Linked DNA regions of Homo sapiens. The protein of the gene in region 4 purifies or fractionates together with the protein of the main gene of each other region. This does not show direct contact. Each region holds a gene or a part of one and is shown on either strand. Other genes may lie near its edges.

Evidence for each region.
Region 1: the proteins of SPACA1 (region 4) and DAGLB purify together in Homo sapiens (affinity purification with mass spectrometry; 3 studies listed by BioGRID and IntAct, with this or other methods). This does not show direct contact.
Region 2: the proteins of SPACA1 (region 4) and ECPAS purify together in Homo sapiens (affinity purification with mass spectrometry; 3 studies listed by BioGRID and IntAct, with this or other methods). This does not show direct contact.
Region 3: the proteins of SPACA1 (region 4) and DNAJC19 purify together in Homo sapiens (affinity purification with mass spectrometry; 3 studies listed by BioGRID and IntAct, with this or other methods). This does not show direct contact.
Region 5: the proteins of SPACA1 (region 4) and ANTXR1 purify together in Homo sapiens (affinity purification with mass spectrometry; 3 studies listed by BioGRID and IntAct, with this or other methods). This does not show direct contact.
Region 6: the proteins of SPACA1 (region 4) and MELK purify together in Homo sapiens (affinity purification with mass spectrometry; 3 studies listed by BioGRID and IntAct, with this or other methods). This does not show direct contact.
Region 7: the proteins of SPACA1 (region 4) and LMBRD2 purify together in Homo sapiens (affinity purification with mass spectrometry; 3 studies listed by BioGRID and IntAct, with this or other methods). This does not show direct contact.

The regions. Positions count from the first base shown.
Region 1 is NC_000007.14:6,441,455-6,444,954, forward strand, and holds part of DAGLB (diacylglycerol lipase-beta), read right to left. Parts: intron 1-3,500.
Region 2 is NC_000009.12:111,481,584-111,485,669, reverse strand, and holds the start of ECPAS (proteasome adapter and scaffold protein ECM29), read left to right. Parts: upstream 1-1,286; 5' UTR 1,287-1,532; coding exon of another isoform or gene 1,533-1,554; intron 1,555-1,612; exon of another isoform or gene 1,613-1,685; intron 1,686-2,107; exon of another isoform or gene 2,108-2,126; coding exon of another isoform or gene 2,127-2,166; intron 2,167-2,268; exon of another isoform or gene 2,269-2,361; intron 2,362-4,086. UniProt on the Homo sapiens protein: Adapter/scaffolding protein that binds to the 26S proteasome, motor proteins and other compartment specific proteins. May couple the proteasome to different compartments including endosome, endoplasmic reticulum and centrosome.
Region 3 is NC_000003.12:180,986,937-180,991,219, forward strand, and holds the start of DNAJC19 (mitochondrial import inner membrane translocase subunit TIM14), read right to left. Parts: upstream 2,801-4,283; 5' UTR 2,667-2,800; coding exon 2,664-2,666; exon of another isoform or gene 2,396-2,663; intron 1,294-2,395; coding exon 1,242-1,293; intron 1,161-1,241; coding exon 1,087-1,160; intron 87-1,086; coding exon 7-86; intron 1-6. UniProt on the Homo sapiens protein: Mitochondrial co-chaperone which forms a complex with prohibitins to regulate cardiolipin remodeling.
Region 4 is NC_000006.12:88,061,341-88,064,840, forward strand, and holds part of SPACA1 (sperm acrosome membrane-associated protein 1 precursor), read left to right. Parts: intron 1-2,739; coding exon of another isoform or gene 2,740-2,758; coding exon 2,759-2,879; intron 2,880-3,500. UniProt on the Homo sapiens protein: Plays a role in acrosome formation and establishment of normal sperm morphology during spermatogenesis. Important for male fertility.
Region 5 is NC_000002.12:69,177,179-69,180,678, forward strand, and holds part of ANTXR1 (anthrax toxin receptor 1 isoform 1 precursor), read left to right. Parts: intron 1-3,500. UniProt on the Homo sapiens protein: Plays a role in cell attachment and migration. Interacts with extracellular matrix proteins and with the actin cytoskeleton and thereby plays an important role in normal extracellular matrix (ECM) homeostasis.
Region 6 is NC_000009.12:36,666,895-36,670,394, reverse strand, and holds part of MELK (maternal embryonic leucine zipper kinase), read right to left. Parts: intron 1,086-3,500; coding exon 989-1,085; intron 1-988. UniProt on the Homo sapiens protein: Serine/threonine-protein kinase involved in various processes such as cell cycle regulation, self-renewal of stem cells, apoptosis and splicing regulation. Has a broad substrate specificity; phosphorylates BCL2L14, CDC25B, MAP3K5/ASK1 and ZNF622.
Region 7 is NC_000005.10:36,099,888-36,103,387, forward strand, and holds part of LMBRD2 (G-protein coupled receptor-associated protein LMBRD2), read right to left. Parts: 3' UTR 1-3,500. UniProt on the Homo sapiens protein: Recruited to ligand-activated beta-2 adrenergic receptor/ADRB2, it negatively regulates the adrenergic receptor signaling pathway. May also regulate other G-protein coupled receptors including type-1 angiotensin II receptor/AGTR1.

The DNA.
Region 1 (3,500 bases), on a different chromosome or scaffold from region 4:
TCGTCCAGGCTGGAGTGCAATGGCGCGATCTCGGCTCACTGCAACCTCCGCCTCCCGAGTTCAAGCGATTCTCCTGCCTCAGCCTCCCGAGTAGGTGTGACTACAGGGGCCCGCCACCACGCCCAGCTAATTTTTTGTATTTTTAGAAGAGACGGGGTTTCACCGTGTTAGTCAGGATGGTCTTGATCTCCTGACCTCATGATGCACCCGCCTCAGCCTCCCAGAGTGCTGGAATTACAGGTGTAAGCCACCGCGCCTGGCCTTCAATACATATTTTTAATAAGGCATATAATGTTATGTGCAACAAACTGACAATTAAACGAACATGTTTTTATAAAATACTGTTTTCAGTTTGGCTGGGATATCTCTACCCACAAGTTACAGAAAATTCAACTCAAACTGGCTGAAAAGCAGGAAGGGCCACAATGACTCGAGCGACTGAGTGCAGAAGCAAGACGGCATCGGGGCTGCCCTGACCGAGACAAGCCTCCATCTCCTTGTGCTTCTCCCAGCTCTCCCCTGCCCTGTATGTCAGCTTGCCCTGCGCTGTGAGTGGAGACACAGCTTCAGCCAGGAGAGCGACGATAAATGGCTTTTGGATCCTTCCTAGAGGGGCAAGGAAGCACTTCCCCAGAACCTTCCACCAAACTCTCCCTGACTCTCACTGGGCCAAACTGGGTCACGTGTCCATTCCTGAACCAATCACCAATACGTGAGCCCGGCCTAGGGTCTGCTTCTCTGACGCATACTTGGTATGTGTGGGATGGGGGCAAAACAAAACGGGGTTCTGTTTGGAGGAGGCTGTGGGATAGACAACCCAGAACACTCCGACAACCCACAGATGACTTCTGAGCTCTGACCACAAGTACATGATGATGCAAGCATTGTACGAGTGTCTAGGAAGAGGGAACGGAGTGAATATGAGCATCCCTCACAGGGAGGTAAAGACGTCCCAACACCAAAAATATCTCAACACAAACAAACATGTAAGGAAAAAAAAAAGTACACCGACTGCTTCCACTCTGACCCTGCTATTACAGCCACAAACTCAGTGGTCTAACCAGAATGTGAGATGAACAAAAAAGGGCAAATAAGTTAGATAATGCTGTATCTGAAATGACACCAGTCTCAATACTTCACCTTCAATAAGAAGCTTCCCAGCGCTGAAGCCACACTGTACACATGGTTTCTTTCTTTCCTTAAGCATCTGGCACCAATGACAGCCTACATTTGGGGGCCAACACAAACGTGGAGCCTCCATCAATCCAGCCTCCTTGCGTGGATGTTTCTAGAGGCATACTAAAATACACAGAGCTAGCTGGGTGCAGTGGCTCACACCTGTAATACCAGCACTTTGGGAGGATGAGGTGGGTGGATCAGCTAAGGTCAGGAGTTCGAGACCAGCCTGGCCAACATGGTTCAACTTTGTCTCTACTAGACCAGGTGCAGTGGCTCACGCCTATAATCCCAGCACTTTGGGAGGCTGAGGCGGGCGGATCACGAGGTCAAGAGATGGAGACCATCCTGGCTAACACAGTGAAACCCCGTCTCTTCTAAAAATACAAAAAAAAAAAAAAAAATAGCCAGGCACGGTGGCGGGCGCCTGTAGTCCCAGCTACTTGGGAGGCTGAGGCAGGAGAATGGCGTGAACCCGGGAGGCGGAGCTTACAGTGAGCCGAGATAGAGATAGTGCCACTGCAGTCCAGCCTGGGTGAAAGAGCGAGACTCCATCCGGAAAAAAAAAACAAAAAACAAAAAAAACAAAACAAAACAAACAAAAAACTTTGTCTCTACTAAAAAAAAAAAAAAAAAAAAAAAAGAAACTGTCTCTACTAAAAATACAAAAAAATTAGCTGGGTGTGGTGGCACGTGCCTGTAATCTCAGCTAGTTGGGAGGCTGAGGCAGAATTGTTTGAATCTGGGAGGCAGAGGTTGGTTGCAGTGAGCTGAGATTACGCCATTGCAGTCCAGCCCTGGGCAACAAGGGCAAAACTCTGTCTCAAAAGAAAAAAGTAAAATAAAATACACAGAGCTCTGTTTTCTATGTTACTGTGGTAATCAGGCACATGCCACTCTTGCTGGTCATCCCAAACCCTAAGGTCTTTTTCTCATGAAAGATGTTGCTGCTAACATTTCTACCCTCTACATTGCTCCTATGAGCTAACACCTTTTACATTTCAGTCCTTTATTCCAAACTGTCAAGATCTTGATGCCGTCACTCACTGTATCACCAGCGCCTCCCAGTGCACCTCACCACCAGCATATATCTGATATGCATACCTCGTCCATCCCAATTCAAGCAGTGACAAAGGACTAAAACATGGCGGATGGTGGCATGTCACACAGCCCTGCCTCTGACCAATGAATCATTTCTAAGAATGCATTCCTTTATTAGTCACCACAGTGCTCACATCATCCTATGAAGCAGAGGAATCCAACAGGGAAGGTTTCCAACACTTCTGGAGACATTCTCAGATAAATGGTTATCTACAGAAAACTGTAACACATATAAAAAATATGAAGAATAGGTGATCAGACGCGGTGGTTCACCCCTGTAATCCTAGCATTTTGGGAGACCGAGACGAGAGGATCACCTGAGCCCAGGAGTTCAAGATCAGTCTAAGCTATATAGCAAGACCCTGTCTCTACAAAAAATAAAAATAAAAAAAATTAGCCAGGTATGGTGGCACGTGCCTGTACTTCCAGCTACTTGGGGGTTGAGAAGAGAGGATTGCTTGAGCCCAGGTATTTGAGGCTGCAGTGAGCTATGATTGCGCCACTGCCCTCTAGCCTGGGCAACAGAGCAAGACACTGTCTCTAACAACAACAAAATAGTTGTAACCCTCACAATGTAAAAATAAAAGGGACCAGGCGCGGTGACTCACACTTGTAATCCTAGCACTTTGGGAGGTCGAAGCGGGTGGATCACGTGAGGTCAGGAGATCGAGACAAGCCTGACCAACATGGTAAAACCGCATCTCTACTAAAAATACAAAAATTAGCCAGGCGTGGTAGCGGGTGCCTGTAATCCCAGCTACATGGGAGGCTGAGGCACAAGAATCACTTGAACCCAGGAGACGGAGGCTGCAGTGAGCAGAGAGCACGCCACTGCACTCCAGCCTGCGCAGCGGAGGGAGACTCTATCTCAAAAAATAAAAATAAAAAATAAAAGGATCAATAGCCTAGTCTAAAATTGGGCAAAAGATCTGAACAGACATTTCCGCAAAAATGATACACAAATGAGCAATAAGCAAATGAAAGGATGCTCAACATCATTAGTCACCAAAGAAATGTTCCTCAAAGCCATGAGACAAAAAACAAATGGCCTGTGGCCCCAGCTATTCGGGAGGCTGAGGCAGGAGAATCACTTGAACCCGGGAGGCAGAGGTTACAGTGAGCCGAGATTGCGCCATGGCACTCCAGCCTGGGTGACAGAGTGTGACTCCGTCTCAAAAAAACAAAACAAAACACAACAAAACAAAATCATGAGCTACCACTTC
Region 2 (4,086 bases), on a different chromosome or scaffold from region 4:
GGGTTGGTTAACTTAGTGTAGTATGAAGTTACAAACAAAAAAGGGTGATGGTAGTGCAGTGTTTTGAATTAACATGGAACAATGTGTGTGAAGGAATAATTGATCCAGAACTTTATTGTAGAAACCTGTCCCCATCAAAGCCATACATGGGGCTGTATATATATGTCCAGAGAAAAGGTCTTCTGCACACTTAACTGTAACTGTTAGTCATAATTTCTCTGCAGAGTGGGATGGTGGGGCTAGGAGGAAGGACTTTCACTTTTAATTTTATGATACTCCAAATCATTTGCATTTTTTTTTTACAAAAATTATGTATAATTTTTCTTTTTTTTTTCTTTTTGAGACGGAGTCTCGCTCTGTCCCCCAGGCTGGAGTGCAGTGGTGCGATCTCGGCTCACTGCAAGCTCCGCCTCCCGGGTTCAAGCGATTCTCCTACCTCAGCCTCCCGAGTAGTTGGGATTACAGGCGCGCGCCTCCACGCCCAGCTAATTTTTGTATTTTTTAATTAGAGACAGGGTTTCACCATGTTGGCCAGGCTGGTCTCGAACTCCTGACCTCGTGATCCACCCGCCTAAGCCTCCGAAAGAGCTGGGATTACAGGCGTGAGCCACCGCGCCCGGCCCAAGATCATGTATAATTTCTATAACAAAAACAATAAAGGAAATAAAAATGTCTTCAGTGTTGTACCTTGTACTTGGCCTATGTTACAACAGGAATGACATATATTCCATTTTTAAGACATTACTTAGGGCTTTATAGATTTCTGCTTTAAGGAATAAATGCAATTTCAATCTATTTAAGACTTGATTTCTTCTTATATAAAAAAAGTATCTGATCTTGTATCTAATTTGTTATGACAGTACCATCACTTAAAGTACAGCAATTATGCAACCCCTGAATTTGAATTTCATTTTGCAAGTGTACATGACCTCACGGACAAAGCGAAGGCAGAAAGTTAAAATCAGCATATCGAAAATAAATCACTCTAGTTACCGAAAAGAACATAGGGTATCTGAACAAAATCTCAGAGCTCACATAGGCATAGATACTTCCATGTGAACTTTAGGAATCTTGCCTTATCTAACTTTTGCAGGGCTGAGTGGACCCCCTGCTCCCGCTAGCCGTTTTGGGAGCACCAGCCACCTCCACACCAGAACTGGGCTGTCGGGGGCCGCTGCGGCGCAGGGGCTCGTCCGGGACTGAGTCAGCGCCGGGGCCGAGAAGTTCGGCGGGAGGCGCAGGGCGGGGCTTCCTCCCGCCGACTCCGAGCCCGGCTCTACTTTTCTGAGTCCACGTCTCTTCCTTTGGACAGGCGTGTTTCCCCAGGTCGGGCCCAGCCAACGTGACAGCCGCAGACCTCGGAAAAGGGCGCTCCGGCCCCGCCTCGAGGATTTCCCCCGGCCGCTAGGGCAGCCCGGGCCCGCTCGGCCCAGCCCCTCACGGACTGCGGCGCGCGGCTCCCCGGGGCCCGGCCCGCCGAACGCCTCGCTCTACAGCCCTCACCTCGCGGCGCCGAGCGCAGCGTCCGCGGCATGGAGACCGGCTCCGACTCAGGTCAGAGGCCCGCCCCCGGGCCGCGGGGGACTGGCCCTGCGCGCGCGGCGGCGCGGTTAGGCCGGGCCGCCCGCACAGGCCGCCGCGTGTCGAGTCCGCGCGGGGAGCGCACGCGGGGCGGGCGGCGACAGGTGGGCAGGACGAGCCGCGAGCGAGCGAGGGCGGGCGGGCGCGCGAGGGGCCCGGCGGGGGGGCCGCTGGGAGGATGGCTCAGCTCTTTCTAAATATAAAACCGGCGTGAGTTGGGCGAGCGCGGCGCGGAGTCGCAGAGCCGCCGCGCGGGCCTGGCGCACGGGGATTCGGCCGCACAGACGGCGGCGGCGGCAGCGGCAGCGGCTCCGCAGAGGCGCGAGGCTGCGGGAGCGCCCGAGTCGCGAGCTCGCGGGGGCAGCGAAGGGCGACGCTCGCGACGCGGAGGACGCAGGCGGCGGCGGCGGGCGGGCCTCGGGGCACAGCGCGGTCCGCGCCGAGTGAACGGAGGCGGCTCGCGGCCCCTGCCGCACCGCGAGCCGCGAGCCCCCCGGCCGCGCCCTGCCCCCCCAGCCCCTCCCTCGTTCCCTCCCCGGCGCAACATGGCTGCGGCCGCCGCCTCCGCCTCCCAGGATGAGCTGAGTAAGTGCCGCGGCCGAACCTGCGGCCGCGAGCCGGAACGGGCGCCGCGCGGTGCCGGGGGCCGGCGGCCGCATGAGGGCTGGGGCGCCAGGCCCGGTGGGCGGGCGGCGGCCGCGGCGTACGGGGAGCTGGGGAGCCCGGGCCTGGCGGACGGGCGGGGCGCGGACCGTCGCCGCTGGCGTTTGTAGGCCTCAGGTTTGCACCGTCACGTTGCGAAATTGAAACCGGAGCCCCGGGCGGAGCCACCTCTGCCCGCGATCCGCCCTGGCCCGGGGTCGGGGGAGCCCAGCCCCCTGCCCACTGAGCCTCGGCTGGCGGGAGGGCCGGAGCCCCGGGGTGACGGGCAGTGTCCGCCCGTCCCGTCTGACCCCGCCTGGCCCCGGGTCCCCGACGGCTGGTTGAGTTATAGAAATGGAGCTTTCGGGAAGGGGGAGAAGGTGCCTTTTTGTGACACTCTAGTAATCAGCCGAAAGGTCACGAATAGGCGGTGACCCTCAGATGGAGCAGGGAGGGCGGAGAGGGTCGCCGGTCGAACCGCAGGAGAAACCACGGGGTGACAGCGCTTTCAGAAAGGAGAGTTAGTGCCCCCTCGATCGTACGCGGTGCAGCCTTCCCGGGGACGGCGGTCCCTGTCTGGGGAGAGCGGTGGTCACCCTGAATCCCAGGCCGCCCCGCCCGCCGCCGGGGTTCGCCTCAATGCTTTGTGGGAAGTGTAGTTCCGGGGCGCCGCGGACCCACGCTGGGGTCATAAATACCGAAGTTTCATAGGACATAGGACATGTGAGATAATTTCTGATTGCGTTTTGAGTGTTCTCCCCCCCAAGGGTTTTCTTTCTTTCCCTTTTTTTTTTTCTCCCAATGCTGCCCTTCAGTTTATGGCAAAAACAAGAAAGGTGTTATTTGAAGATGATGTGGGTTTTAAATGGAATAAAGCATGGGTGAGGTGTTGCAAGCTTTATGAAGCTTACGTTGTTAAAGCCGCTTCTGAATTTCCATATGAAAGTAGTTATACACGTAATGTATGTTTTTCTGGTGCTTGTCAGTTTAAAGCCACTTTTATATACATGATCTCACTTTTGCCCTCATAGCAACCTTGTGAGGCAGATAGGTAGGAATTATCCTTGTTTTAAAGAGGAGGCAGGTTTGGAGAGATTAAGTTCCTTGCTGCTTTGACACAGAACTGGTGGAGCAGGAGTACTGTTTGCTTTTTTTGAAGCTGAAGTAAACACTTGGTGTGATCCTGAGCAGATTGGAGAGTCGGAGGAGACAAGGTCTCATGGTGCGATTAGAGAGAGAAGCGGGCTACAGATTGCTCTTCTGTCGGTTCCACGTGGAAGCACCACCAGGCCTTCTGAGATCAGTTCCATGTTTTGTTTTAATTGGAAGAAAAGTACACATACCATAAAATTTCCCGTCCTAGCCATTTTTTAAGTGTACAGTTCAGTGGGATTGAGTACATTCACACTGTTGTGTAATCATCACCACCATCCATTTCCAGAACTCTTCGTCTTGTAAAACGGAAACTTGATACCCATTAAACAACAAATCCTCATTCCCTCCTCCCTTCGGCCCCTGGCGACCATCATTGTACTTTCTGTCCCTGTGATTTTGAGTATTCTTCCTACCTCGTGTGAATGGAATCATACAGAATTTGTGACTGGTTTTATCTTTATTTAGCATAATGTCCTCAAGGTTCATCCATGTTGTTGCGTGTGTCAGAATTTCTTTTCCTTTTAAAGGTTGAATGATATTCCCTTGTATGTATATATCACATTTCCTTGTCCATCTATCTGTCTATGGACACTTGGGTTGCTTCCACATTTTAGCTATTGGGAATAATGCTGTTGTGAACATGGGTGTACAGATACCCCTTTGAGACCTTGCTTTCAGTTCTTTTGGGTACATACCCAGAAATGTAAT
Region 3 (4,283 bases), on a different chromosome or scaffold from region 4:
TTTTACCTTACACCTAGTATTAATGCTGCTTCCCGTTTTGTCATTTTGGGTTCAAACCCACCTCTATAATAGCCACCACTGAAGGCCTGAAAGAAGAAATGCATTTGTAAAGAAAGGTTAATAAAATAAAGTTGCTTTAAAAAAGACGTCTGGAAATATTCACAGAACTAAGAAAAACTAAGACATTTCAGAGGACTTTTAGTGCAATTCCCGAGGTATTTTAGCTAAAGCTGAATAAAGTTTATAAATAAGTAGCAACAAGTAGTATTTTAATGATCATTAAACAGATTCATTTTTTTCCAGTCAATATGAACTATCTTAGAAATATAAGACAAAATAACAGTGTCTGAAAGCCAGGTCTTCCGGGAGTAAAGGAAAGATCATTCCAAATTAGCCATATTCTAGATAAAAATCTGCAAGAAGTGGCTCAAGAACAGAAGTCTTTTGAGACAAGAGGTTCAAGTGTATTTGAAACAAGACTTTAAGATATATATACAGAAAATACCACTATTAGGTCCTCTGACCTTGCCATGTCAGAAATCATATTGGTAAAGCCTACAATCACTCTATTCTGTTACACTTAATCACAACATATTCAACAGGTGATCACAGCCAAATCTATTCTTAACTGTGACCACAGAGAGTATGACCATAACATCAAGCCAAACCCTATAGCCTAATTAACTAGAGTGCTACCTATGTATGATGTTTGGGAGTGCCAGGGCCACATGGTCAGATCGGATCACTTTAGAATCATATACCTCTGTGTGTGCGATGCAGAGCAGATGAAGGAAAACAAGAATATGTACAGATGATGCTGAAGGTGATGGTATGTGAAAAAGTGAAACTTGGGTCTAGTGGGGTACTAGAATTGTCAAAACCCCATCCAACTCTGTCACATATAACATCTGATGTTTCAGGGTAGCACCATCACAAAGTTCAGAACTTCTATACTCTCCTTGCAGGAAGCAGGAGAATGGGTCCAAAGCAATCACTTAGAACTTCATGGATATTTGGAAATTTACCCTTCCCTAAGTGTGGCTCTAGGTTTCAAATAGAAGCAGCAAAGAATTAACAAAGTCTTACAGATTTTGGTAGGCTTTGAAAAACTTGTTTTACTTGAGGCTCCATATGCTTCATGGCTTGCAAAACGTAACGGCCTAAAACCAAAAGCAACAGAATAAGTAAACTAAATCTCCAATCTCCCCGACTTCACTTCCATCCCCAAACCATAAACAAACCTGCAAATCCTGCAGCAGCAATGGTCAGTCCAACTGCTACCACTGTACTGGCCTGGTAAGGGGGAGAAGAGTAAATATTTACTTCTCTAATTCCCACCCTTTCTCATTTTGCCCATTCTTCCATCCCCAACTCATTACAAACTGCATTTTAATAGGAGAAACAACTTTTTTTTTTCTTTTTTTTTTTTTTTTTTTAAGAGACGGAGTCTTGCTATGTTGCTTAGGCTGGTCTTGAACTCCTGGCCTCAAGCAATCCTCCCACCTTGGCCTCCCAAAGTGCTAAGATTATAGGCATAAGCCACCATGCCTGGCAGAGAAACAACTTTTAAGGCGGAAATATTCTGTCCAGTAATCTTTAAAACTACTGCATCTGTTATGCTGAATGCATTAAAGTTACAGGATTCATCATATGGGAAAGAGGGCAAGTTCGACTTGCTTATTTATCTTTACAATAGTGAAAAAGATGATTCCCTCCCTTTGAAAACTTCTTTCATCACCAGACAAATTAAGTCACATTAAAGTTCAATCAAAAGTAGTGGAAATAGGCCAGGCGCGGTGGCTCACGCCTGTAATTCCAGCATTTTGGGAGGCGAGGCGGGCGTATCACTAGGTCGGGAGATCGAGACCATCCTGGCTACCATGGTGAAACCCCGTCTCTACTAAAAATACAAAAAAAAAAAAAATTAGCTGGGCGTGGTGGTGGGCGCCTGTAATCCCAGCTACTTGGGAGGCTGAGGCAGGAGAATGGCGAACCCGGGAGGCGGAGCTTGTAGTGAGCCAAGATTGTGCCACTGCACTCCAGCCTAGGCGACCGAGCAAGACTCTGTCTCAAAAAAAAAAAAAAAAATGTGGAAATAAGGTTTCTGCTACAGAAGGAAAAACTGTTTACAGACGGCTCCTGTAAAATTCTAACAACGCATTTTCGAGGCTAAACGTGGGCTAAACTAGGAGACTAATACCTTTGGCACTGCCCTGTTGTTTCCTAACAAGACAGGCCCAAATATGTTCAGGAAGCATGGAGAAGACATCTGTCAGCAAAAGCCAAAGAGAAGGACATAGCAAAGTGGAGCTAGTGCTGTGAAGATGTGTTAGGGCAAGGGCACTTATAATCAAATACGTTTCCACTAATCTCCGAGTCCATGACAGCCTCTGACCTTACAGGAGTTCCAGGCAAGCAACACCTGCAGAGCCCGTGCGGACAAGAAGCTGGAGAACCGTGCAGAAAGACGATGTAAAAACACAAACCCCCAAGAGAGCGAGCCAACAGGGTTGTGTCCTGGTGAGTGTGACTCCCCAATAACCGAAACCTCCCGCCCGCAGTCGCACTAAGGAGCACAACTTCAACTCCACACCTCCGAGGCGGGGAGCTGAGGTTGAGGCCTGGGCCGGAGGTCGCCAAGAAGACCGGAAGGCCGCACTCACCATGGCTCCGGCTGGGCTCCCTTGCTTCCACCGGGAGCACGGCTCATCCCAGCTCAGAGGCCGCGGCCAACACCTGCACGCCTTTACCAGAGAGCGACGCAACCCCCAACCTCAAGCACAGGCGCCCTACGCAACACGGCAGGAGCAGCCGCAAACTAGGCCGGAAAACTGTCGTAAAAGGGGACGCGGAGGAGAAGGAAAGTCGCTCAAGCAGTGGACAGAGCGGAGAAAGCGACTTCGGGTTGGTTGAAGGGTGGGCGGATCTCTTTATTTCTGGGTGTAGGGGTGGGGCTTCTCTGTGTTTTCTGTCCTTTGCTCCTGGGCGGTGGGTATTTGGAAATTCTTGCAGGGAAGGGCATGGGCAGCCTTACTCAGACCGATTTTTTCCCCCTACATCTTAGCACCTCGTTTTGCCTTTATTTTATGTTAATAATTGTCAAGGGTAATGAATGTAGTTAAACATGCTGTGACATTTCCACCACGAACCCAAACAAATATGTTGTAACCCAGTGTAGGAAACGAGATGCCCAGAAAAACAAATGAAACCAACCACACTGTGTTTCAGGGATTGCTCGGTAGCATTTTTTAATGTAAAAGAACTTCATTTAAGGATGTGACTTGACAAGACTTTGTGAATATTTGGGTTTTCGTTTTGTAGAATGGGATTAAAGACAGTTCATATTCTGAACATGGAATGTCAAGATCCTACAACTGAAAAGGGCTATTTAAAAGTTTTCCTCCTCACCCAAAATAAAAAGTAGGGCTGGATTTTGCCCTTACGTGGACATCAGTTTCATACATCCCTACATAAATGCTTGAGAAGAAAAAAATAATGGAGACAATAATGGAATTTTACAATGCAACGTTTGCATGATCAAAATAAGTTTGGAGTTACTTCCCACTCAGAATTTACAGTGTTAAATATCCGTTTACATTGCAATGCAATTCTGCTTTGATGAGTTTGTTAGTTATTAAACAAATATGCAAAATTTTTGGGTTTGTTTTCCTCATCTGTAAAAGCAGTTTGCATTTGATAATCCAAGAGCTCTTCTAGCGCTAAGGTTTTTGTGATGTAATTTATTGTCAACACATGATTTAAGGTGACATCCAGCACTAAGACACTAGCATTAAGTTTATAACTTCCTCTTTTGCCTCTCTTTTATCTGGTTTTTACCCAACAATTACAAAATAAATAATCAAGTGAGGCATAAGACCTTGGGACCAAATTGGCATCAACAAGCTAGAATGCTATCTGGAAAAATTTATTATGCATATTTTTGGTATGTACAAACTGTGTAATGCAGTTTCTGGAGGAATAGATTTACAGTAGACTCTAATTAGCTTTGAGACTTTACAAAACCCAGACTCAGGAAATTGGGAGTAGCAACACAGCAAGACATTTTGTTGAGCTGGAGATAGCTCTTTTTTTGGTGGCAGATCAAACTGGAGGTAACCTGGCTCTGTCACTTACTAATACTGTGACTTGGAAAAGTTATTTCTGATTGAGTTTCTTCCTCATTTGTAAAATGAAGGTAATGATAACTACCTTGCCGAGTTTTTGTGAACGTAGAGATTATGCACATATTGTGTTCTGCTTATGGTCATCACTCAGTGTGGGGC
Region 4 (3,500 bases):
TTAAGATGAGGTTGTACTAGAGCAGAGTGGGCCTTTAATCCAATATAACTGGTGCCCTCATAAGAAGAGGAATATTTGGGCATGCTTGTGCGCACACACACACACACACACACACACACAAACACAGATGGAAAGTGGGGCGCGGAATGCCAGGTGAAGACACAGAGAAACAGACATAGGGAGAAGACAGCCATGTGAAAATGGAGACAAAAATTGGAGTTATGCTACCAGAATCCAAGGAATTTCTGAGCCTACCAGAAGCTGAGAAGCTGTAAGAGACAAGGAAGGATCCTCCCCAAGAACCTTCAGTGAGAGCATGGCTCGGCCAACACATTGTTTTCAGACTTCTAGCCTCCAAAACTGCGAGACAATACATTTCTGTTGTTTTCGTCACCCAGTTTGTGGTACTTTGTTATGGTGGTCCTAGGAAACTAATAAGTACATAAGCTTAGTTTATCTAAAAGGTGAGAGCATCAAATTTAGCCTATTTTTCATTAAATACTTCAATAGGAAATTGAGCCTATTTTTTTCATTACCTGTAAAAATAGTCTAGGTGACCCTTGCAAGACTACTGTTGTAATAAATAAAATCTTCATGCCCCTCACTCTCCACCCTCTCTCAGCTAACATTGCAGAGTAATGGATAAATGAAATTTGCATTTCTCCTTGTCAGGTGTCAGTTCTGAAAGGTGTTTTTTATTTAAGTTTCCAAAATGCCACCACTTGTGTAAATCTAAAGTTATTTTGAAATAAAAAGATTTTTAAAAATCCAACAATGTTGGAACGTAAATATAGATGTATTTTCTCTAGCATACTTGGAACTATTTAGCGAGATCCCTAACTTGAGTTTATAGCTCTAGAATTACTAGGCAAAATGGAAACTTATACTCCATGATGTCTAACAGATAGGGAAACAAATCCAGAAAAATAAGCAGTTGAGATTGCTCATATAGAAGACTAGTTCTGACAGAGTAGTACTTATCAAAATCAAAGTATTTAAATAGTCAAAATATACCTTGTACAAATTAAACCTCCCTGGGCCTTGGTTTACTTATCTGTATAATGCAATAGTTGGATCAGATGATCTCTGTAGTTCTTTCTTCCATGAATCTTTTATGATTCCAGAATTTGGGGTCATAAAAGAGATACAATAAAGCTATGTAATTCACAAAGTAAGTAATATTCTATGTTAATTGGCTTTTTACTAGTTTACAATGTAGCAATACTGTAATACATACGGTAGATTGGCTTTGTCTCTTTGATAACCTTATTTGCTGAAAGAGCAGAGAGACATGGGAGAGAATGCTTGAGGTAAGAGTGGTGCATGAGGTGGGTACAGTGGTGTGTGCCTATAATACTAGCTACTAGGGAGGCTGAGGTGGGAAGATCACTTGAGCCCAGGAGTTCAAGGCCAGCCTGGGCAATATAGCAAGACCCCATTTCCTAAAGAGAGAGGGGTCGGGGTATGTGGATATGTGTATAGAAAACAATGAGCTTCAATTCCTTTCTTACAGCAAATATAAAAATTAGAGAGGTATCATAGTCTTAAGTGTAAAAGCTAAACCCATAAAGTTTTAGGAAAGAAATATAGGAGACTATTTGCATGATTCAGGAGTAGGCAAACGTTTCTTAGACATAATTCAGAAAACAATCACCATAAAAGGAAACATTGAATAAATCAGACTGCATCAAAATTAAAAACTTCAGCTCATTAACAAAAATCATTAGGATAATGAATAGGCAAGCCAAAATCTGGTAGAAAACATTTATAAAACCTGTACAGTCAGTACAATCAGTTTGAGAAAGTTCTCATGGTTTCTTAGACAGCTAAACACACATCTGTCTACCCTACGACCCAGCAATTCTATTATTAGACATTTAGCCAAAAATTAAGATATATATTCACAAAATGACTTGTATAAGAATGTTCATGGCAGCTTTATTTATAGTATCTCACAACTGGAACAGCCTAGATATCCATCAGTAGGAGGATGAGTAAACAAATTGTGGAGTATACCTAGTAATAATAAAAAAATGATAGTTGCATATAACAGTATGGGTGAATTTCTAAAACATTATTCTAAGTAAACAAATCTTTACACAAGAGATTACCTAGTGTGTGTTTCAATTTATATGTAGTTCTAGAATAGTCAGAGCTAATCTATGGTGGAAAAGAAAATCAGGATGCTTGTTGCCTCTGGAGGATGAGGAAGGAGTTAATTAGGAAGAGGCTCAAGGGAACTTTCTGGGGTATAGTAATATTCTATATCTTGACTAACATTTAGTTACATATATGAGTTTGCCTTTGTCAAAACTAAGCAAATGTACATTTAAGATCTTTGTGCAATTCTTTGTGTGAAAATTTTATTTCAAAGAAAAAACTAATATTAAACTCCAGTTAACGATATGCTTGCTGAAAAATTTTTGAGGAAGTGTACTGACATTTGCAAATTATATTGAAATGCATAAAAATAAGATGGATTAATGAATTGATAGAGGAATGGATAGATGAATTTTAAAATATTAATGGTAGTATTTAGATGGTGGTAATACAGGCTGTTCGTTGTCAAATTCTTTTAACTTTTTTCATGTTTGAAAAGGACATTTCAAACATGCAGAGCAAGATCATTAATAATTTTCTCTGCACTAAGCATTTCTTTATGTTTCTAGAGTTGTTTTTCAAATATAAACTTTTAAGTTAGATATTCATTTCCTTTTCCTCAGTAGTAATACTCCTTAGGTTTGTGTGTTTTCTCTAGAATTGCAGATGAGAAGATCAAGCCTACCAGCCACTGATGCAGCCCTAATTTTTGTGCTGACCATAGGAGTCATTATCTGTGTATTTATAATTTTCTTATTGATCTTCATAATCATAAATTGGTAGGTGAATAGTGGAATGCATCATCACCCTTGATTGACATCCTCTTCTTCCCCCTCCTCATCCAGTGAATTGCAAAGCCCTGTCCGTGATGTCTCCTACATGTTGCCTTGAAACTGTCCATCGCCTTTCATTACTCCTGTGACTGCCCTAGTTCAGGCTGCCCCGTCTCTTTATGTAGATGCTTTTTAAAACAATCTCATGACTTGCTTCTCCAACTATGAGAGAGCTTTTAAATGCAACTTTTACAATTTTACACGGTAATTGCTTTAAAAAGTTTTATTTAATGAATATTTGTGTTGTCCAGTTGTGGTTCTCTCAACTCTAAAACTTGGTTATTGTAACCTACTAATTCATTTGTATGACAATATTTATAATACCTACATGAGTAGTACACCCTGGTAAGTCTGAGGGCTCATATACTATCGATTTGTAGCTGATGCATCGCAAACTAAAAATGAATAATGAATACAAAGGCACTTCTTAGAGAAGAGGTAATATATATGTTTTATATATATGTACATATATATGTACATATATTGTATATACAATATACATATATCTTCTATGTACATATAATGTATATACAATATACATATATCATATATAGGTCATATGTGTGT
Region 5 (3,500 bases), on a different chromosome or scaffold from region 4:
GGGGAACCCGGGAGTTCTTGGCAGAATAGGTTACGCTTAAACAACATTAAGGGATGGGTAGAAGCAATGGGAGAAGGGCTTTCCAGGCATGTGGAGCCCTGCATGTTGAAGCGTGGAGCTGCACAAAAGCCTGGCATGATTGGGAAAGATGGGAAAAGTTCAGGGTCTGAGGACAGCACAGGGCTAATCCAATTACAGGCTAACCAAGTGAGTTCACAGACTTCATCCTCTACAGCTGTTTCTTCCTCGAACAGCACTGTGCCTGCAGGCACACCCAGGTCTGCCTGAGGACACGCAGGTCAGAAGGGGCCTCTACCATCTGAGGAATGTGCTGCCATTTGTGTTACCCAAGCTCCAGCCAGCTGGACGTCTGGAGCCACCACATCCTTTCAGATTTAAACACAACTTCCCTTGATGGGAAACCGGCCTCCCTCCCCAATCCCTGCGGTTTCTCCCAGGCACCACTGACTCCTACTCCTCGCTTCTTCCGCGTTATCTCATCTTCTCGGTTTGCTAGACACGATCTAGCAGCTCTGGCACAAATCCAACTGCGCAGCAAATTTTACTGAAGGTTTAAAAGTATAGTGCAGCCCACAACCCCTGACGGAATATTAAAGGGACTCTTATTTACCACCGGCCACCCCCACCACTCGGGGGGATTGGGGGTCGTAGCTGTTCACTGGTAGCTCTGCCCCACTCTGTTCTGCTCATCTTCTCATTCCCCACAAGCCCCTGATTTCTCATTCACAGCAATTGGGCTCATCCAGCCCCATCCTCCAATAACCATAGAGGACAGCAAGGTTTTTGTTTTGTTTTGTTTACTAAAGGAAAGCCAGCTCACACTGAGGATTTCTATACTGGTGTTTTCTCCCTCCCTGCTACCATCCTTGAAGGGCAGTGTAGGAGGAAGATCTCAAGAGCCTTTATGATTTAATGAGATGTAAAAATCCACCCTCCAGTGCTGCCGAGTTTCTTAGTGGCCTTGCTGAGGGGCTGGGATTCTACTCCGTCCATTTTTGGCCAAATGGAAAGACACATCAAAGATTCCCTTCTCTTCCTGGGGATTGCAAAACCCTTCTGTCTCCAGAATGTGTAAACAGACCCATGCTAACTGCAGGGGAAACTCTGACTCTCCCGTCCGTCAGCCCCTGGGCCTTTGTGCTGCCTGGTGCTGTTGTCTGAGCTTGGCAGGCCAGCTCCGGTCAGGGGATTAAGCGACGGGCTCGGTGGCGCGGCAGCGTGTGGAGATTGCCCAAGCCCTAGGCATTTCCTGTTGCGAGAAGGCCAGGCCCTGCCCTTGAGCACGAGGGCGGCGCCTCCTTCCCCAGGCCAGGGACAAGAGGGAGGAGCCAGGGACTAGAGGGAGGGGCCAGCGGCAAGAGGGAGGGGCCAGGGGCAAGAGGGAGGGGCCAGGGACTAGAGGGAGAACTGCCCCCGTGTGCAAGTGGAACCTGGAAAGCGGGGAAACCGGCTTCATGCATCTTACTATATCCTGAGCACTCAGCGGGGTTGCGAATTAGAGAAAGCCAGTTGTAAATCCTTCTTTAAGTTCTTTTCGTAAAATATAGGGGGAGAAAAACCCCTGGACAAGGCATCAGAAAACCACACCAGAACTTCACCTTTAGGGGTCACTTCATTTCTCTAGATCTGACTCCTCTTCTGTGCAGTGAAAAGACTTAATTAGATGAGCTCCTAAAAAATTAAGAGGCTCATGAACCTAGTTGAGTCCCCTGTGGAATAAAGCGGCTTTATTCTTGGAGTTTCTTAACGTTCGTGGTGCTGCTGTGTTCAGCTTTAGGGGATAGAATTTCTGTTATCTCCTTTGGAAAACTGCCCCAGACTGGGAATGCCCAGGCTTTCAGAGCCATATTTTGTATATCTGTGTTCACAGCCACTTACACAGAAACATACATCCACCTCCAATGTAAAGTTTAACCACATATAGGACATATAAGATTCCTGCTTTCACATCATAAGGTGAAAGAAACCTCGGAAATTCTAAGGTAAAGTAATATGAACTATAATATTTTATTGTGTTGGGGACTTTATTTTGTTATATTTTGCAGTTATAAATTATCAAAATTAAGTCCATGTGCGGTGGCTCACACCTGTAATCCCAGCACATTGGGAGGCTGAGGTGAGAGGATCACTTGAGCCCAGGAGTTTGTGACCGGCCTGGGCAATATGGCAAAACCCCATCTTTACAAAAAATAGAAAAATTAGCTGGGTGCATTGATATGTGTCTGTAGTCCCAGCTACTCAGGCAGGCTGAGGTGAGAGAATTGCTTGAGCTGTGGTAGTTGAGGCTGCACTCCAGCCTGGGTGACAGAGTGAGACCCTGTCTCCAAAAAAAAAAAAAAATTATCAAAATTAGCAGGTACAAGGAGAAGTCAAAAATGAGCGTGTATTTGTTGCCATCAAATGATTGGAAAAGCAAACCACAAAAGAACAAAATCCAGACTGGCCAATGCTGAGAAACAATCAAAGGAGAATGAGGTTGCATGAGTTCAAATCCAGCTCTGTCACATACAAGCTGGGTGACCTAAGTCATTTAACGTCTCTATTCTCGTTCTCTAAAATAGGAATAATAACACCATGTACCTTCCTGGGTGGTTGCAAGATTAAAGGATTAATAATACATTTAAAGTGCTCAAAAGAGTGACTGGCACATAACATGGGAAAGGCTGCATAAATTCAATGGTGTGTTATCATGAATGCAATATGTGTTTATCGAGCACCTACTTTGCACTTAGAATACAAGGGTCAGCAGAATCTGAGAGCGAGCAACCAAGTAAGAGAGAGAGAGACACCCAAGTGTCAGCTGTCAGAATGTTGTACGTCCTAGTCTGCTGTGACCTCTCTGTCCTTTAAGATGTATTAAATTTTTTGAAAATCATTTTAAAGAAGACTGCCCATCCCAAGCACAACATGTAACTCAGGGAGTCTTAATGTGCCAACATGTTTCTGCTTTGCTTTGTCACCTTTTGTCCTGACCTCTCCTGCCTTTGCTTTTTTGCACCTTGCCTCCTGCATGGGGTGCCCCATCCCACGCAGTGGTGCCCTGCATAGGACTTCACCCAAATGCCACCAAAACAAGGCTGTGAGAAGCAGGCTTCAGCATTGTGAGCAATTTCTCCCTCTTTTGTTCATTCCTCTGCTTTATCAACCCCTTTTCCAGCTTCCTTTCTCTACCCAGGAGAGAAATCATGCCACTTCCTTATAATCCATCCATGACTATAAATGGTGATATTTTTCTCCCCACAACAAGAATAATTACAGTGCCAAGATGAAGAGCAGTTGCTACATCTCCTCCCTTTTTCCATCCACAGTTACAAGTTCCTCATCTTCTTTCTTCATCTTAAAAAATATAAACACTAACTTCTTGTCACTGAGCTAAGTTGCAGACACTTAATTAACTGCTTTATTTGAGTCATCTTATTTAACTTATTTGTAAATTCAACAGATAATTCTTGGGCACCCACCACATACAACATAGTGCT
Region 6 (3,500 bases), on a different chromosome or scaffold from region 4:
TGCTGAGAAGTTTACGTTACATATGGCTGTTTATTAGGCATATTTTATCCTTTTGTTCTGAAATTTTTCTGGTTGGAGATAGTTAAGTATTTCAAGCACTGACACTGAGATTTAAAAAAACCATAGTACCATTGCACTGAAAAATGTTAAATAAAATTAAGGAAACTAGTTCAACCACATATATACACATTATTGAGAAGCTAAGCAGTTACCAAATACTAACGGATAATGTTCTAAAAATGGTCAGTTATGTAAATATTTTGGAACCTGAATGCATTTTTCAATAGAAACTACTGTGGTGTTAGTTGGCTTTCTAGGTAGTTCTCCAGCACTTCCAGACTGTGGGAGAAAAACCATAAGATTAGGAATGAGAAGACCTGGGTTCTGGCTCCAGCTTTGTACTATATAGCTTTGATAAATCATTTTATTCCTGATCTCCTCAGTTTCTTCATCAATAAATTAATAATAATTCCATAATATCATCTAATACCCTGTCCACATTCTAATTCTCCAATTGTCTTGAAAATAGACAATGCCTTTAAGAAATTGCTATAAAAGAATAGCAACTTGAAGAGTTACCTATGCTGCAGAACTTTTCATACAGAGGATTTTCTTTGAAACAACAGTATCTTTACGATTTGGGAGGACTACAATCTGTTAGAGGATATCTGTATTTTACTGGCAGAAGAGAAGGGTAAGATGGGCCTCAGAGAGGTAACTAGTTGGCTGGGGTGAGGACCACTGTCTTCCCAGCCTGTTGTACTTAAGGTGCCGTCCTACTGCTGATCAGTTTCATGATTCTACCCCATGAGGAAGGCAGTGGCTACAGGTCCAGGAATGGCCACAGGTCATCCACACATAAACAGATATTCCTACTCTCCAACAGAATCTATGTGATGATTTACCTTAATCAGGTCTATTAATACATGAAAAAGGAAATCTGGTTACATATACTAAAGATTAGAGTCTAAAAAAACCAAACACTTACCGCCTCTCAGGGCTAATGACACCTGTCATTAACTTGTCTGTTCCTGTTGAATTTACTGGTATTTTAATTGGAGTTTCTTTCAGGCACTGGTTTCTAGCTATTAGAAACAGAACAAACACAATCCATATGCAGCACATACTATGGTTCTGAAATTTCTATTATTAATAATAATGCAGGTATCACATTATTCATTGACTCAGAAACAGTATAATCACTTGACCTGTGATGTCGAAGGCTCTAATTCTTTCAAGAAATGTTTCCATGTGATTTATAATAAAAACAAAATCATTTTGCTTTGTATGTGTGGCTCTTCTTTTTTTTCTTCACTGCAAATTTAGGCCATGCTTTTAATTTTATTATAAACATCATATGATAAATCTAAACAGATCATATAAATACAAATCTCATAATTACTGATTCTTTTTCTAAAAATAAAAGTCAATCTGTATTTATACAAGGGCCCAATTTATGCTTTTAATTGATCTAGTATTAAAAGGTGTTAATTGAATTCATAGCCCGATTCAACTCATGTTAGGCAAAAAGAACAGACCCCTGTGAAAGCTTGACATAAGTTATTAAAGAGATGTAAGCTTTGGCCAGGCACAGTGGCTCATGCCTGTAATCCCAGCACCTTGGGAGGCCGAGGAGGGCGGATCATGAGGTCAGGAGTTCGAGACCAGCCTGGCCAACATGGTCAAATGCCATCTCTACTAAAGATACAAAAAAATTAGCTGGGCGTGGTGGCGCACGCCTGTAATCCCAGCCACTTGGGAGGCTGAGGCAGAAGAATCCCTTGAACCCAGTAGGCAGATGTTGCAGTGAGCCGAGATCGCGCCATTGCACTCCAGCCTGGGAGACAGAGCAAGACTTCATCTCGGAAAAAAAAAGAGATGTAAGCTTTGATTATTTTTTATATTCCCTGTTCCAGAATTTTGTGTTTTATTCTAAGTAGGGTATTTGCATTCCAGATAGTTTATGACAAATTTGTACTAACGAATCTGGTTATACTGATTAGCTCATGATCTAAAAGTTTTATACCCTTTAGAGATAATATTCACACTATAAAAACAAAGATATAATATCAAAATTTTAAAAGAGATTAGGGGCTTGGTTTTGTTTATGACTATTTGGCTACATTCTCACTTTCCACAAGAACAAGAAAATAAGAGCAATCAGAAATATTTATAAAAACAGTTTTCATCTTTGTATACAGACAGTATCTATCACCATACAGAACTGCCCTTCAACAAACTGCCAATGCCTGCATTGTGTAGGAGTGACGAAAATGAAATTTATGTTTATGTCAAAAATAACTCACAATGAAAGTAAAATGCAGGTCTGGGCATGGTGGGCTCACCCCCGTAATCCCAGCACTTTGGGAGGCCGAGGCAGGTGGATCACCTGAGGTCAAGAGTTTCGAGAGCAGCCTGCCCAACATGTTGAAACCCCATCTCTACTAAAAATACAAAAAATTAACCGGGCATGGTGGTGCGCACCTGTAATCCCAGCTACTCAGGAGGCTGAGGCAGGAGAATCTCTTGAACCTGGGAGGCGAAGGTTGCAGTGAGGCAAGATCATGCCACTGCACTCCAGCCTGGGCAACAAGAGTGAAACTCTGTCTCAAAAAAAAGAAGAAAAGAGAAGAGAAGAGGAGAGAAGAGAAAAAAGAAAAGAAAGAAAAATGCAAAGTGCCAGTGGAAGCTAACAATCATGGCTTCAGCCACTTGCTTCCTTAAGTGGCTCGTGTTTAAAAAGAAACAACCAATAATAGCTTTGACCAACACAATCTTTCTCGTCATGACAACATATGTCAACTGATAATATTTCAAGATTATAAAATAAATTCCAAACTACCCATATTGCAAAACCTTCAGAGTTACACAAAAAGTAAAAAATGTCAATAATGGAAGGGATTATGGCATTAAAATTTTTTTTAAATAAAAAAGCCCTGGGCCGGGCACAATGGCCCACGCCTATAATCCCAGAAATTTGGGAGGCTGAAGAGGGCAGATCACCTGAGGTCAGGAGTTTGAGACCAGCCTGACCAATATGGTGAAGCCCTGTCTTCACTAAAAATACGAAAATTAGCTGAGCGTGGTAGCAGGCGCCTGTAATCCCAGCTACTAGGGAGGCTGAGGCAGGAGAATCGCTTGAACCCAGGAGGCAGAGGTTGCAGTGAGCCGAGATCGCACCACTGCACTCCAGCCTGGGCAACAGAGCAAGACTCCAACTCAAAGAAATTAAAAAAAAAAGAAAAAAAGGGGAAAAAAAAGATCGTTGAATGAGCTAAGGTGAGCTGAGGTCCGTTTTATCTCCCTGCCCAATCTCATGAGTCACAAAGGGTACTGTATTTACAGTAAGAGAAACAACAGAACAGAAAGAGACCCTTTCATTGGGAAAGAATGCAATAGCAGCTACCATTGCAGGGTAGAGGCTATCTCACTGAATTCTCATAACAACCACAGGCAGCGCCACCGCACCCCCCCACACACACACCATCACACACACACAC
Region 7 (3,500 bases), on a different chromosome or scaffold from region 4:
CAGAAGGAATCAGAGGCGAGGACATGTTCCTGCTGCAGTGGGAAGTAAGACAGAGCAGGACTACGGCCTGCCCTACTGGAGGAAATTGCTCCTAGGGCCTTGTCTCCAGGAGTTGGGAAAGGGGAAAGAAAACATTGCCCAGTCTTCCAAGTCTCTGGGCAAAAAGTCACTGAGTTGGAAAGAAGTACCTCATACAGATGGGAATTCATATTTTAGAAGGCCTTCTGTAACCTTCTTATATTGTTTCAACGCTCCTAAGAAAAGTTTTGATGATGTATGTTATTAATTCCTTTTCATAAAAAGATGTCTCAAGAATCTAAATAAATCTTAAATTTTGGGGGGGAAATCTATTTTTATGTAAAAATATTACACTGAAAACAATTTATTTACTGATGTGTCCTCTTTAGTGACCTAAAAGATACACTGAGCCAGCATACTTTACATTTGTATTCAGATGTTGCTTAGTTGTCTAGCAAAATCTGTTTGACTACTTTAGGTACAATATTGCTATTTCAAGTAGTGGGATTTGTAGTCAGAACTAGTTCCTTCTGAGCGTACCACTCATCAAAAACAACTCTGTACACAAAACAGAAGGAAAATCTTTCAGCACATTAAAAGTCATGCTATAAACATAGGCCTCAGAAAGGAAGAAAGGTATAAAGGAATGAGAGAGGACATAAGAAAAGAAAGACAAAACCCTAAATCCACTTACTTCTTAACATTTAGAATTCAATACAATCCATTACATTTGATGATTCAAGTACGCTAAGATTTTTCAGGGACATATTTTGTCGCTTAGTGCAAATATACTTGTAATTTTTAGGCATAATCCACTCAAATCACAAGTAAGAAACTCACCTTACTAAACAGGTGAATTATAATATGGAGAGTTTATTTTTTCTCTAATATGGTAATCAGCACACCAGCAAGAACATTCCCTAAACCTATTAATAAGAATGAGGTTTGTAACTGAATGTAAATTAAATTGCTCCATTAATATGCTAAAATATACTTTTAAAAAACCACACACATTGACTTTCCTATGCTAATTTAATTTGGGCATACATGCAGCTTAAATTTCAGAACTGATCATCTAATCAAATAGTAGTCCAAAAAAATCAACTGGCAGAATGTTTTTTTGAATGTCTGGATTGTCAAATTTTCTGATCTATTCTTTATAAAGGGAAAACCCTTGAATCTTTTGATTTAGTTCTTACCATTTCTGTGAAATGAGGGCCTCTTATGCAATGAGATTATTCAAAAGCCCTTGTATTCATTTGGTAAGAGAGCAAATTTTAATAATTAAACTTATTCTTTCTTTTGTTTTTTACAAAAATGCTCTATTGATAACAAGTTATTTATGTTGTAAAAGAAGTTAATTAGTAATTTAGAGGTGATTCATTAAATTAATAGATTATTATTATTTTCTACAATAGTTATTCTGAATTACTGGCTTACTGAATATTCTTACCTAACAACTATTTAAAGAATAATTTGGAAAATTTTAAACTAATACTTATTATCAAGTAATAAAGTCATCAAAAATTACCAGAAATAATTCTTTAAGAAATGTACTTTGCATGTAAAGTATATGTATTTAGTAGTCCTATTTTGCAGTAGATGTCATTATATTTCAATAAGCTTCTCAAAAGAGAAAACTTCTACCCATTACAGTTTTTTACACAGGGTGGCTTGACAAATATTAACTTGGTTCCCCAGCAATAAACTGAGTCTTCCAGGGTCAAGTCATTGCCTTCTGAACTCAAATTTATCCAACAAAATAACATTTTTATATGATTGTATATAACATTCTGTAAGACAAATTCTGCTTAAAGTTGAATATTCTGAATCACTGAAACAACCAAATATTTTAAATATAACTTGAAAGTCATAAAGGAATCTATACCGGTTGTGAAGTGTATGCACGTATACACTTCAATTATTATAACCATAAAAAATTTAATACTAAAGGAAAGTGGTAACATTACCTTACACGTTCCTACCAATTTATCTTAGGGCATTATAAAAGTTAGTTATAAAAGTAATTGGCTAATTTCTTTTCCTTTTCTGCTTCTGTTTCAACAACAGCATCTTAATTTCATGACAAAACCTGATGAGAAACATTATACTTAAGAAATTATTCCAAAGTAAACCCAAAGACTAAATAAAACAACACTACTTTCACAGGACTTTTGATGAATTAGTCCAAAAGCGTTTTTGCTTTAAGTACTTGTAAACTTTTCTGTAATAATAAGAAACTGGACCCATTTCTGGGATGATCATTTCCCCATCCAATACCTTCAAGTATCACTAGGAAAAATAGCACAGTTATAAACTCCAGTACATAAACACCAATTCAACTTCCTCACAATGGCTTTGTAAGGTAGATCAGCAGGTAAATAGCAAGTATCATCTTCATTCTGCAAATGAAAGTGCAGAATGAAGCACTTGAGGCACTGAAGAGCTACATGATTTGCCAAAGGTATTCAATTAGTCAATCATTAAATTACAAAGAGGATCAAATTATCTCTGCTCCTGGCTTATTGCTTTCTGGCCACACTTCACATGAAAAGACTGTATGTGTGTGTTCTTAAGTGTAGTCTATATGACCTTCAATTCAGAGTAAGTCTATCCACTGATAATTATTTTAAAAGGGATCTAATTGCAAAGATCATAAAAACTCAAAGATCAAAATTTTCAGATAATGAGGATGATGCTCTATTCCTTTCAATATCTGCATAGAGCTGTGTTTTAAAAAAAAACTTACATGATAATATTTATTAAAAATAAAAATAAAAATTTTAAATTTATGTCTTGGGGAAAGATTAACTTCAAGTTAGGGGAACCATATAATTCATCTTCAAACTGGGTGGGATACTTGAGGGTGAAAGTAATCACTAGTAATAAACAGGATACTAGGTGTTACACTGAGACTGTATTAGGCAAGCTGAAGTATGGTCACCAAATGTAGCATGGATTCAGTAAGAGTTGCAAATATTCTAGGGACATAAGAAAACTCTCTGCAAGCATGCTGCAATCAAACATGTTCACTTTTCAATAAAACACTAGTGCTTTAAAATATAATACATAAATTTATCTTAAACACAAAGGTTAAAAACAGTCTATTTAGTAAGAATGTTTAACCAACAAGTTATTACACATTTCCATTCTAATATAGTTTTGTTTTCTATAAACCACGATTTAAGTATCAGTAATAACAGTAAATGGATTCACTTTTTACCTTTGAATAACCAGTTTTTTTCTCAAAAAGTATAAGCAGGTACCTTTAAATACTGAAGGATTTTGTTGGACTCTTTGACTACTTAAAAAAAAACTATTTTTCATTAATGCCTAGGATTTATCCTTGAATATCATAATCAACATTTAAATCAATATGTTAAATGATAAATGTGAACATAGCTTTCTGAAATGAAAATCTTTTATAAAGCAATACCAGAAGCATAAAAAAATCCAGTTACTACAAAGACTGAAGGAATACT